2 separate regions of the Homo sapiens genome follow, and region 1 is linked to region 2. Evidence: fine-mapped expression QTL. A gene starts in region 2. The other region holds a variant in brackets. All regions are shown on one strand. Distances are between the middles of the regions.

Region 1 (5,377 bases), 630 kb before region 2:
TAGACTTGAGTCCCAGCAGGCCCCTAGAGGTGAGGTTCAAAGTGTGATTCAGGAGGAGGTGTGCCATGTTCCAAAAGAACTACTTCAGTTTTCTAATTTATACAAGCAGAAGTCTGGGGAATGCTTGTGGGAATGCATACTGAGAGTGTGGGAATATGGTGGAAGAAATATAAAGTTGGATCAGGCCAAATTTACTTATATGGACCCTCAGAGCCGAGGTCCTCAATTTAACTTTGCAGCTCAGGGAGTGAGTTTGTTTGATTGAGTGGTAAAACATGGATCAAAAAACATGAGCCACTGTGAGTGAGCTGGAGATGCCTGATCTCCCTTGGGCTAACACAGAGGAAGGGATTCAAAGGCTTAGGGAGATTGGAAAGCTACAGTGGATTTGTCACTTAAACCCTACTCGGACACACCAGGAGGGTCCAGAAGACAGACTTTTCATCAATACTTTGAACAATGGATTTGTGAGGGGAGCCCCAGCACCCCTGAAGAGCTCTGTGATTGCTCTTCTCTGTAGACCAGACCTTACAATGGGAGCTGCTGTTATTCAGTTGGAAAACTTAAATGCAATGGGAGTAATTGGATCCCAAGGTGATAGGGACCAAGTGACGGCACTCAACCGTCAAAGACAAGTTGAATGCAGTTTTCAAAATGGTACCTGGTATGCACCTACTAAACTGGCAAATACCTTTTTCTCCATTTGTGTTCATAAGGCCCACCTGAGGCACTCTGCCTTCAGCTGGCAAGGCCAGCAATACACCCTCACTGTCTTACATCAGAGATATATCAACTCGCCAGCTTTATGTCACAATCCAGTTTGCGGGAATCTTCACTGCCTTTCCCTTCCATAAGATTTCATACTGTTCTATTGATAACCTTATGCTGATCAGACCTCATGACCAAGAAGTAGAAACTACTGTGGACTTATGGGTAAGGCGTTTGCATATCAGAGCACGGGAGATAATCCAATTAAAATTCAAGTGCCTTTTACCTTGGTGAAATTTCTAAGAGTCCAATGGTGTGGGGCATGTCAAGATATTCCTTCTAAGATGAAGGATATGTTGTGTATCTGGCTCGTCCTACAACCAAGAAAGAGATACCATGCCTAGTGGGCCTATTTGAATTTTGCAGGCAACACATTCCTCACTTGGGTGTCTTACTCTGGCCCATTTGTTGAGGGTCCCAAAAGATTGCTAGTTTTGAGTGGAGTCCAGAACAGAAGGCTCTACAGCAAGTCCCAGCTGCCATGCAAGCTGCTCTTCCTCTTGGGCCATATGACCCAGCAGATCCAATGATATCCAAGATGTCAGTGGCAGATAGCGATGCTGTTTGGAGCTTTTGGCAGGGTGCTGTAGAAGAATCACAGCAGAAGTTCTTAGGATTTTGGAGCAAGGCTCTGCCATCATCTGTAGATAACTACTCTTTTGAGAGAGCTCTTGGCCAGCTACTGGGCCTTAATAGAAACTGAACGCTTGACCATGGGCCACCAATTACCAGGTGACCGGAGCTGCCCATCATGAACTGGGTGTCATCTGACCTACCAAGCCAGGAAGGGCATGCACAGCAGCAGTCCCTCATCAAATAATGGACCAGCACAGGCCCTGGAGGTACAAAGAAGTTACATGAAGAAATGCCCCAAATGTCCTTGGTGTCTACTCCTATCACACTGCCTTCTCTCCCACCACCTGCACCTATGGCCTTATGGGGAGTCCTCATGATCAGCCGACAGAGGAAGAGAAAAATCGGGCTTTGTGGACAAATGGTTCTGTATGATACAGAGGCACCAGCTAAAAGTGGACAGCTGCAGCACCTCAGCCCCTTTCTGGAAGATCCTTTAATGACAGTGGTAAAGGAAAATCTCAAGCGGCAGAATTTGGGGCAGTGCACCTGGTTGTGCACTTTGCTTAGAGGAAAAATGGCCAGATGTGTGATTAGGTACTGATTCACAGGCTGGATGGTCAGGGACTTGAAAGGAACATGATTAGAAAATTGGTGGCAAAAACATTGAGAGAATAGATATGTGGATAGATCTCTCTGAGTCGGCAAAGGATGTGAAGTTATTTGTTTCTCATGTAAATGCTCACCCAAAGATGAGCTCCACAGAGGAGTATGTTAATATTCAGGAGGGTAGGATGACCCATTCTGTGAATACCAGTCAATCTCTTTTCCCAGTCATCCCTGTCATTGCCCAGTGGGCTCAGGAACAAAGTGGCTATGGTGGTAGGGATGGAGGTTGTGCACGGGTTCAGCAGCATGGCTTCTACTCACCAAGGCTAAGCTAGCTACAACCACCACTGAGTGCTCAGTTGGCCTGTTGCAGAGACCAACGCTGAAACCCTGACATGACATCATTCCCCAGGGCAATCAGCCAGCTACGTGGTGGCAAGTTGATTACATTGGATGGCTTCCATCATGGAAGAGGCAGCATTTTGTCCTTTCTGGAA[T/C]AGACATTTCCTCTGGACATGGGTTTGCCTTCCCTCCATGCAATGCTTCTGCCAATACTACCATCTGTGGACTCACAAAATGCCTTATCCACGCTCATGGTATTTCACACAGTGTATCTACTAAGGAACTCACCTGACAGCCAAAGAAGTACAGCACTGGGCCCAAGTTCATGGGATCCACTAATCTTACCATGCGTCCCACCATTCTGAAGCAACAAGCTTGACAGAACAATAAAATGGCCTTTTGAAGTTGCAGTTACAGCACCAGCTAACGTTGCAGGACTGGGGCAAGGTTTTCCAGAAGGCTGTATGTGCTCTGAATCAGCATCCAATATATGATCCTGTTTTTCCCATAGTCAGGATACATGGAGTCAGGAATCACAGAGTGGGAGTGTCACCACTCACCAATACCCCTAGTGACCCACTAGCAAAGGTTTTGCTTCCTTTTCCCATGATTTTATGCTCTGCTGACCTAGAGGTCTTAGTTCCAGAGAGAGTAATGTTTCCATCAGGAGACACAACAATGATTCCATTGAACTGGAAGTTTAGACTGCCCCCCCCACCCCCGCAGCCACTTTGGAGGCCTCATGCTTCTGAGTCAACTGGCTATGTTATGGTGCTGACTGGGTGACTGATCCGGATCAGGAAGGGGAAACTGGATTACTACTCCACTGGATGTAAGGAAGACTATGCCTGGAATACAGGAGATCCCTTAGGGTGTCTCTTAGTATTACCATGCCCCATGATCAAGGTCAATGGGAAACTACCACAACCCAATCCAGGGAGGACTACTAATGACCCAGATTCCTCAGGAATAAAGGTTCAGGTCACCCCACCAGGTAATGAACCATGACCAGCTGAGGTGCTTGCTGCAGGTAAAATAATACAGAATGGGTAGTGGAAGGCAGTTATAAATACCAGCTGTGGCCATGTGACTAGTTACAGAAACAAGGACAGTAATTGTCATGAGTATTTTCTTCCTATCTTGTTAAGGATATGTTTTGGTGTACATATTATATACATGTTATAAATATGTTAAGCAAATATCTTTGGTTTTGCTCATCTCTTATCCCTTTATTATGTATAATAAGATTTTTTGACTTTATATCAGTATATATGTGTTGTTAATTTTACATCATAGTGTTTCAGTTATCATCCAAACACTTTACCTTCTCTTCTAGGGAAGAGATTAGTGCATTTTCAGTTGTATGCAGATAGTTTCACCACGTTAGGTGGAACTATTTCCTTGTTACTGTCTTCATTTGGAGGTTAAGTATGGTTTAATGGGATGCAAACAGGTGCCAAGTTGACAAAGGTGGACCTGTGATGATTAACTTTAGGTGTCAATTTGACTGGATTAAGGAATACCTAGAGAATTGATAAAGCATTATTTTGGGGTGTGTCTGTAGGGGATTTCCAGAGGAGACTGGCATGTGAGTCTAAGTGGACTCGGTGGGGAAGATCTGCCCTCACTGTATGTGGGCACCATCCCATAGGCTGGGACCTAGACAGAACAAAAAAGAGGCAAGGCAAATAGGTTTCTTTCCTGGAGCTCGGATACACTCTTCTCCTGCCCTTGGTCAGCAGAACTCCAGGCTCTCTCGCCTGTGGATTCTAGGACTTAGCCCAGCAACCCCCACTCCCACCCCAGGATCTCAGGCCCTGGAACTTGGACTGAGCAACACTACTGGCATTCCAGGGTCCCCCATATGTAGACGGCTGTCACGGGACTTCTCAGATTCCATAATCAGGTGAGCCAATTCCCTTAATAAATCTCCTCCCATTGATTTTTATGTCTCTAGAGAACCCTGAGTAATACAGACCTGTACAACTTGCATTCTTTTTATCAGCTCTTAACTGCAAAGCAATTCCAAGTAGCCATGCCCACAGCAAGTTCATAATGGACTTATTATAGGCTCATAATGGGGTCTTATTTCTGTACTTTCTATTTCGATGAATGTTCCACCAGCCATTCAATTAGGCCAGTCAAAAAATGGGGTGTCATCCTTGATATCACTCTTTTCTTCCTCTGATATGCAGTCTATCACCAAGTCTCAATGATTAAGGGTCTTTCAAATCTGTGTGTGTTTCTCCATTTCCACCCATCACTGTAGCCTAAACCACCATCATCTCTCATCTCAACTCTCGCCTTGCATCCCAAAGGGTCTCCAGGTGCACTCAGGCCCACTGATACGCATTTCTTCCCATTGCAGCCAAAATTATCTTTAAACAAACAAACAAAACATTTTTCATGTCATCATTCTCCCCTCAGCCCAGCCTCACTCATATCTTCTATTGTTTTAATAGAAATGAAGCTCCTAAATGTGCCTTACAGACTTGGCACTGTCTCCGCACGCTGTGACCTCCAGCTCCATTGGCTTGCTTTTCTCCTTCCTGCCCTATGGGCTCTGCACATTCTGTTCCTTCTCTATGAAACCCTCCCTAGCCAAACTAACTCCAGCTCCTTCATGTCTACAGTCAGAGAAGCCTGCTCTGGCATTTTTAACTAGTCCAAATCTTCCTCTCAAATTGGCAACAGGCAGTTCTAGGTGGCTCTCCATTCAATCCACTAGCGCCCTTGCCATCTCACTTCAGTTTGTGTTATTATTTAAAGTCTATCTCCGGGGCCGGGTGCAGTGACTCATGCCTGTAATCTCAGCACTTTGGGATGCCAAGGCAGGCAGGAGTTCGAGACCAGCCTGGCCAACATATAGTGAAACCCCATCTCTACTAAAAATACAAAAATTAGCTGGGCAAGGTGGTGCACACCTGTAGCCCCAGCTACTTGGGAAGCTGAGGCAGGAGAATCACTTGAACCCGGGAGGCGGAGGTTACAGGGAGCCACCATCATGCCACTGCACTCCAGCCTGGGTGACACAGCAAGACTCTGTCTCTCAAAAAATAAATAAATAAATAATAAATAATAAATA
Region 2 (5,377 bases):
GGGGGGATAGCTTGTCATTGTCGTTCATCCACCATGCTCAGGACGGTCAGGCAGGGGTGCAGGTTCATCCTCCTTTCCCTCAGCCGGCTTTAGTTTCGGGTACTTCTCCTGCAAGCAAGTTCTGCCTGCTCCCCACCAGTGCAGTGCCACGGGACCCCTAGAAGGAGGTCTCACCCTGGCTCCTGGCTCCTTCAGGGCGCGCTGCAATGCAGCTTCTGCAGACTGGGGCTCACCCCCCGCCTTGCTTTCTAAAGTGTAATGTTATGATTTCTGCCATAAGGGGCGCATCCATACAGCCAGGATTCCCTTGGGATGGGGGTCCTGATCTTTGCTCCAGCACAGTGAGAGGAGGGGAAGCGGGTATGAGGAGGCCCCCCGGAGCTGCCATCCAGCTGGGGACTTGCCTACGCAGGAAAGTTTGTCTTCTCCTGCCACGGACCCAGTGCACCCACCTAGCTCCCTCTACCAGGCTCAGGCAGGTACTGAGTGTTCCGTTGGCTCTGCCTTCCCTGCTGAGCACAGCCCCCAGGCTGGACCCCCTAGGATGCTGCTGGAATCTGGAATAACAACAACAGCAACCCCCACTCTGAACTTCTTGGTCAGCCTAAAACAAACAGCTGGGAACATGGTTATGCAGAGCCCATCCCTGCTTTAAAAAGTGCCATCTTCACAAGGTGTTACAAAACATTACAGGCTGGATTACTTGTTTTAGTTGATCCTCTCTTCTTTCTCCCCAGTAAACTTCCATTTTTCTGATTTCACTTTGGCATCTTAGGACTACTCAGGGAATTATATTATTAAAAACAACACTGAAAATATTCCCACAAAACCCTACCAAGTAATACTGAATATAGAAACATAAAACTGTATGTTTTACCTATAAAAAGGCAGGTAAGGTTTTAAAATCTTAGCATTCCTGTCTGTGTATATATGTATGAAAATTTAGGTTTAAGCTAATGTTTAACACAATGCATTTATCTCAATTTGGGGGAAAAAAAGAGATCCTGACTGTGCGACGGTTTGGTATGAAAACCGACACTTTTGCTGCTGCCTAAAACCTTGGCAAGCATAACCTAGCCCCTTCGGCATTGTTTGAAAGATGCCTGCAGGCATTCAGTTGTCTGCTTGCAAAGGACTCCTGTGCAATTATCAAATCTATTAAGATGCCTTCAATTTTGCAACGCTTCTGCTAAGCTCATTTTGGTAGGATTGCAGCATCTTACCTGTGTCACTGCAGATTTGTTTTCCCCAAACAAATAACTGCTGTGAGAGGTGGGATCACATTTAAATCATTAGACAAGGTGGGGAAGGGGCTGGGGAGAATCAGGCAAATCCAAATTTCCAACCTTCCCTCAGCAGGGACATCCCAAATTCTGCCAAGGGAAATTCATATTCCTGACGTAAGGAACAGGAAGGAGATACTGAGAGGATTCCGAATTTCAAGGGCATAATCTGCCCATTTGGTGGAAGGATAAAGAAAGGACGGCAGGCAGTAGAGGGCCTGTGTTACAACAAGAAATGCAGGAGCAGATGAGTGAGCTGAGAAGGAGGGATGGGGCAGGGAAGGAGCTCCAGGGGGAGAGGGTAGGGGAGAGCAGTTCCGAAGGAAGGGAGGGAGGAGGAGAGTGGGGAGAGGTGGAGAGGGAGAGAGAGAGAGAGAGAGAGAGAGAGAAAAGAAACAGAGAGAGAGACAGGGAGGCGCAGAGATCTGGACTGATTCAGAAACAGAGAGAGACCACCACGACTGAGAGAGATAAGAGGGTGCCCCTTCCACCCTGCAGGTCCCAACATAGGCAGCAAGAAGGATTTATGGCTGGGAGTTCAAACCCCTCTTCTCCTACCCCCAGGACCACAGCTGGTTAATGCCAGTTGGTGACTTTCACTGAAACAGCAGTGCCTCACAGCATGGTGCAGATCTCGAACCCAGCTCACTGGATCCCCCGGAACAGAGAGCAAATCCCGTGCTGAAAGCATCTGCGCGCGTGTGAGCGAGTGAGTGTGTGTGTGCGTGCACACAGCAAGCCTACCTCTTTCACTCACATGCATCTCACACTCCCTGTCCTCACCCCTTCCTCCTTGCCTCTCCATCTCCCCACTGCCTCTCCTGCTCTCACGTCGTACAATCACCCCAGGGAGAGAAAACACCCTTCCCCTGTACGGTACCTGGGATGAAGAGCAGGGCAGTTGTCGCCGAGAAGACGACCCAGTAGGCAGGATGGTACATCTCGACGCTGCGGTGCTCTCAGCTGCCGGGCTTGCTACTGCTTCTGCTGCTGCTACCGCTGCTGCCTTCCTCTGTGCTGAATTCTGAGCAGGTTTAAATCCAATGTTTGCAAAGGGAGGGAGAGAGCAGAAGAGAGAGAGAGCGCGCGAGAGATGGGAGCAGGCAGGCAGCGTCTCTGATTTCTTTTCTTGCACACAACTGGTAAGAATCATCAGCACCAATCTGCACAGGGCTCAGAGCAGTCCTCCAAGGCACGCATTGGCTCCACTCTCCTGAGCGACGGAAGGAGACTTTCCTGCTTGGAAGGCTTGACTCCAAGGGGAGTCGAAGCCGGCCCCTCACTCACCCCCTCACCGGAGCACAGCCCTGCGTGTTGCTATCTGTGTGAGTATGTTGATGTGGGGCTCACGTGGACACGTGAACACACACGAGCTCCTTGGTGGGCAGTGGAGAGGGCCTGGCACTGCCAGCAGGGCTCAGGGCACACCAAGAAAGAAAGGTTGCTTGGCAGAAATGTGACTAATGCCCATGCCAGTTCCTTATCATTCTTCCTTCTTCCTAGTCTCCAGGCAGGGATGGAGCAGGAACTGCTACCCACGGGGAGAGCTCAGACATTTAAATCTGCACCCTACCCCTCCATTCGGCCATTAACAGCATTTGGAAGCAGTTGGTTTTCCCAGTAAGGAGATGGGCATGTTACGGTTTTAAACCAATGATGCAGGGAGAATTGGCCAGTTCCCCACAATCAGAGCATTCTGAAACTCTACCAAGGCAAGATGCTATAGAAGCTCAAACAATTGCTATGATTACAGCATAGGCAGGGACAGATTCAGATTAGATCTCAAGGAGGCGGAAACTTGCTGAAGTCATCGGAAATCTTCACAAGGAGAAGGCCACAGAAGGATACCTGTGGCTTCCTTCTGTTTTTTTTTTTTCTGCTTCTCCTTTTCAGGGTCCAGTCTGTCCCTTCCTCTGGAATGGCAGTTTACACCGGCAGTTTACACAGGATGGCAGTATCTCTGGGTGTAAGAAACCTCAGAACTTTCCCCTGCTCTAAAACGGCCTGCTTGCCCTCCCTAACACGTGCTTGTAAGCAGCACACCTTGCTGGCTGAGTGGTGCTGCCACTGAACTATACCCTGAACTTGGAGGGTCTGTGATCAAAATAGCACCAAGTATTAGAGAAGGGACTCAGCAGACGATTTCTGTCCCAGGTGCTCTCCGAAGACCTCAAGTGGCTTGGATTCCTTCCCAGCTCCACGTGTCCACACCTTGAGGTCTGTGAGGGACACTCCACAGGAGGTCTTTCTCCCTTCCTCCTTTGCTGCAATTCCCAAAGTTTTCCCAAGTGACCTACTATGGGCAGGTATTCACCTCTATCACTTTAGTTAATCCTCACCAGCGTCCTTCCTTGTAGGCATTATGACCCCTGAATTTTCAACTGAGGTTGACAGCGATTCAGTGACTTGCCACACAGCTAATGAGTTAAGATAAAAACCCAGGTCTGTCCTGCAAAATCCACACAGTTTTTATAAAGCAGCCAATTGCCAACAAGTTCTTTGGGCCTGACTGAGCGCCTCTCTTTCTATAAAATAAATCATGTTTACTTTTAAAGAAGTAAAACAATTGATTACTCCCCTCCTTATGAACAAGTCAGAAAACTTCAGCAGTAAAAGAGAAAACAGATGATGATTGTATCATCCGCTGACACTTATGAAGTACCTACTTAACATAGTCATTTTTTCAGGGATGAGAATATGAAGAATATGATTTGTTCTCGTCTATAAAGGGCATACAATATAAGTCAGGAGATCAGCCAAAAGTTAGCATTGTGACTTTGCGAATGTACATAAAAATAATAGGACACGTACACACTGTTAGAGTCAAATTTTGTAGACCTCATCACTGCAAACATGTCGTTCACAAGCAAATTGATATGTGAATCCTTCAGGCAATGCTGGAATCCTGCAGAAATCCAGAATTATTACCAGTGGCTGAATACGCTGGAGAATACAACTGGCTTGAAATTGTGGGAGAGACCAGATAGGCCACAGAAATGAGATAGACATCTCATGGAGGGGAAGAGAGCAGACACAGGTAGAAACCCTGCAGGGGGGAGTTAGGGGAGGAGATGGGAGACCAAGAGAGAAAGACCTTGAGTCCTAGACCAGTGATTTAGAAATTTCCCCCTGCTGGGAAAAACAGTTAATTTCTTTTTGAGCAGGGGAGCGCTGTGAATGAGAGGGAGTTAATTTATGGAAATTAATCTGGGTGAAGTGTACAGGAGGGATTGTGGCAAGCACACTTGTTAGTAGGCATGGCCCAAGTTTGATAGATCCTGGAACTGGTGGTAGCAGTAGAAGAGGAAAAGAAGGGGGTTGTATGTGGAACGCAGAAGAGTTAGGAGGACGTAGTGACTGATGGCATTCTACGGATAATAGACATCATGTATTCACCCTCTGCAGGCTAGATTTTTTTTAAAAATATTATCACATTCAATTCCTAGCCGTTACTCTATGAAGGTGTAATTATGCCTTTTTGAGAGATGAAGAAACCGAGACTTAGAAAGGTTAGGTAATTTATCCGAGGTCACACAGCTAGTTAGTGACAGCCAAAATTTAATCCTGGGTTTTTCTGTTTCCAAATAAGCGACTCCCTAGAAGAAATTATCATATTGGGCACCATCATTTTATTGAATATTCACATGCCAATCACTCAGGTATTGCCCTTATAAATCCCTATTTATTTATCACCCACACAGACTAGAGGGAGAGACTGGAGCTCAAAGAGCTTTAATAACATCCCCAACATTGCAGAGCTGCCCGGGTGTGGAGCCCCGGTTCAAGGCCTGCCTTCACCACTGGTGCTCTTAACCACCAGGAGGAGAGAGAAGGAGCAGCACTGGCAGCCTAGGAGGGGACCGAGTCCCAGCGCTGCCTGTGCAGTAGCACCTGAGGACATGGAAGTGCATTCCATGCAGCCCCAACCCCACTCCAGGAAAGAGGGGCACACACTACTAGTCGGTAGCTAGTGGCCAGACAGGAGCAAACTTTCATTAAACTGTCTTGGGCCAATCACAATCCTAGGAACTTCATAAATTTTCTCTGTATTGCTAGCCCATTTCAAAGATAAATAAATAGAACAAGTTACAGAG

Which allele goes with the higher level. Positions count from the first base shown, and alleles are read on the strand shown. Sizes are in standard deviations (SD) of each study's normalised expression.
For the expression in cerebellum of the gene that starts at base 2,401 in region 2, allele C in region 1 goes with a higher level than allele T (small effect, 0.29 SD a copy in GTEx).

What was found.
Region 1: its variant is fine-mapped to the expression of OPCML in cerebellum (GTEx, PIP above 0.99). The same link has a PIP of 0.9 or more in cerebellar hemisphere.

The regions. Positions count from the first base shown.
Region 1 is chr11:132,895,839-132,901,215 of GRCh38, forward strand. All of the region lies in intron 2 of OPCML (opioid binding protein/cell adhesion molecule like), which reads right to left. Among named protein-coding and RNA genes, the nearest start is that of OPCML-IT1, 470 kb to the right of the region's middle. The variant T/C (reference allele first, on the strand shown) is at 2,448.
Region 2 is chr11:133,530,101-133,535,477 of GRCh38, forward strand. OPCML (opioid binding protein/cell adhesion molecule like) reads right to left here and starts at 2,401. Exons shown (of 8, transcript NM_001012393.5): 1 at 2,164-2,401. The coding sequence starts at 2,224.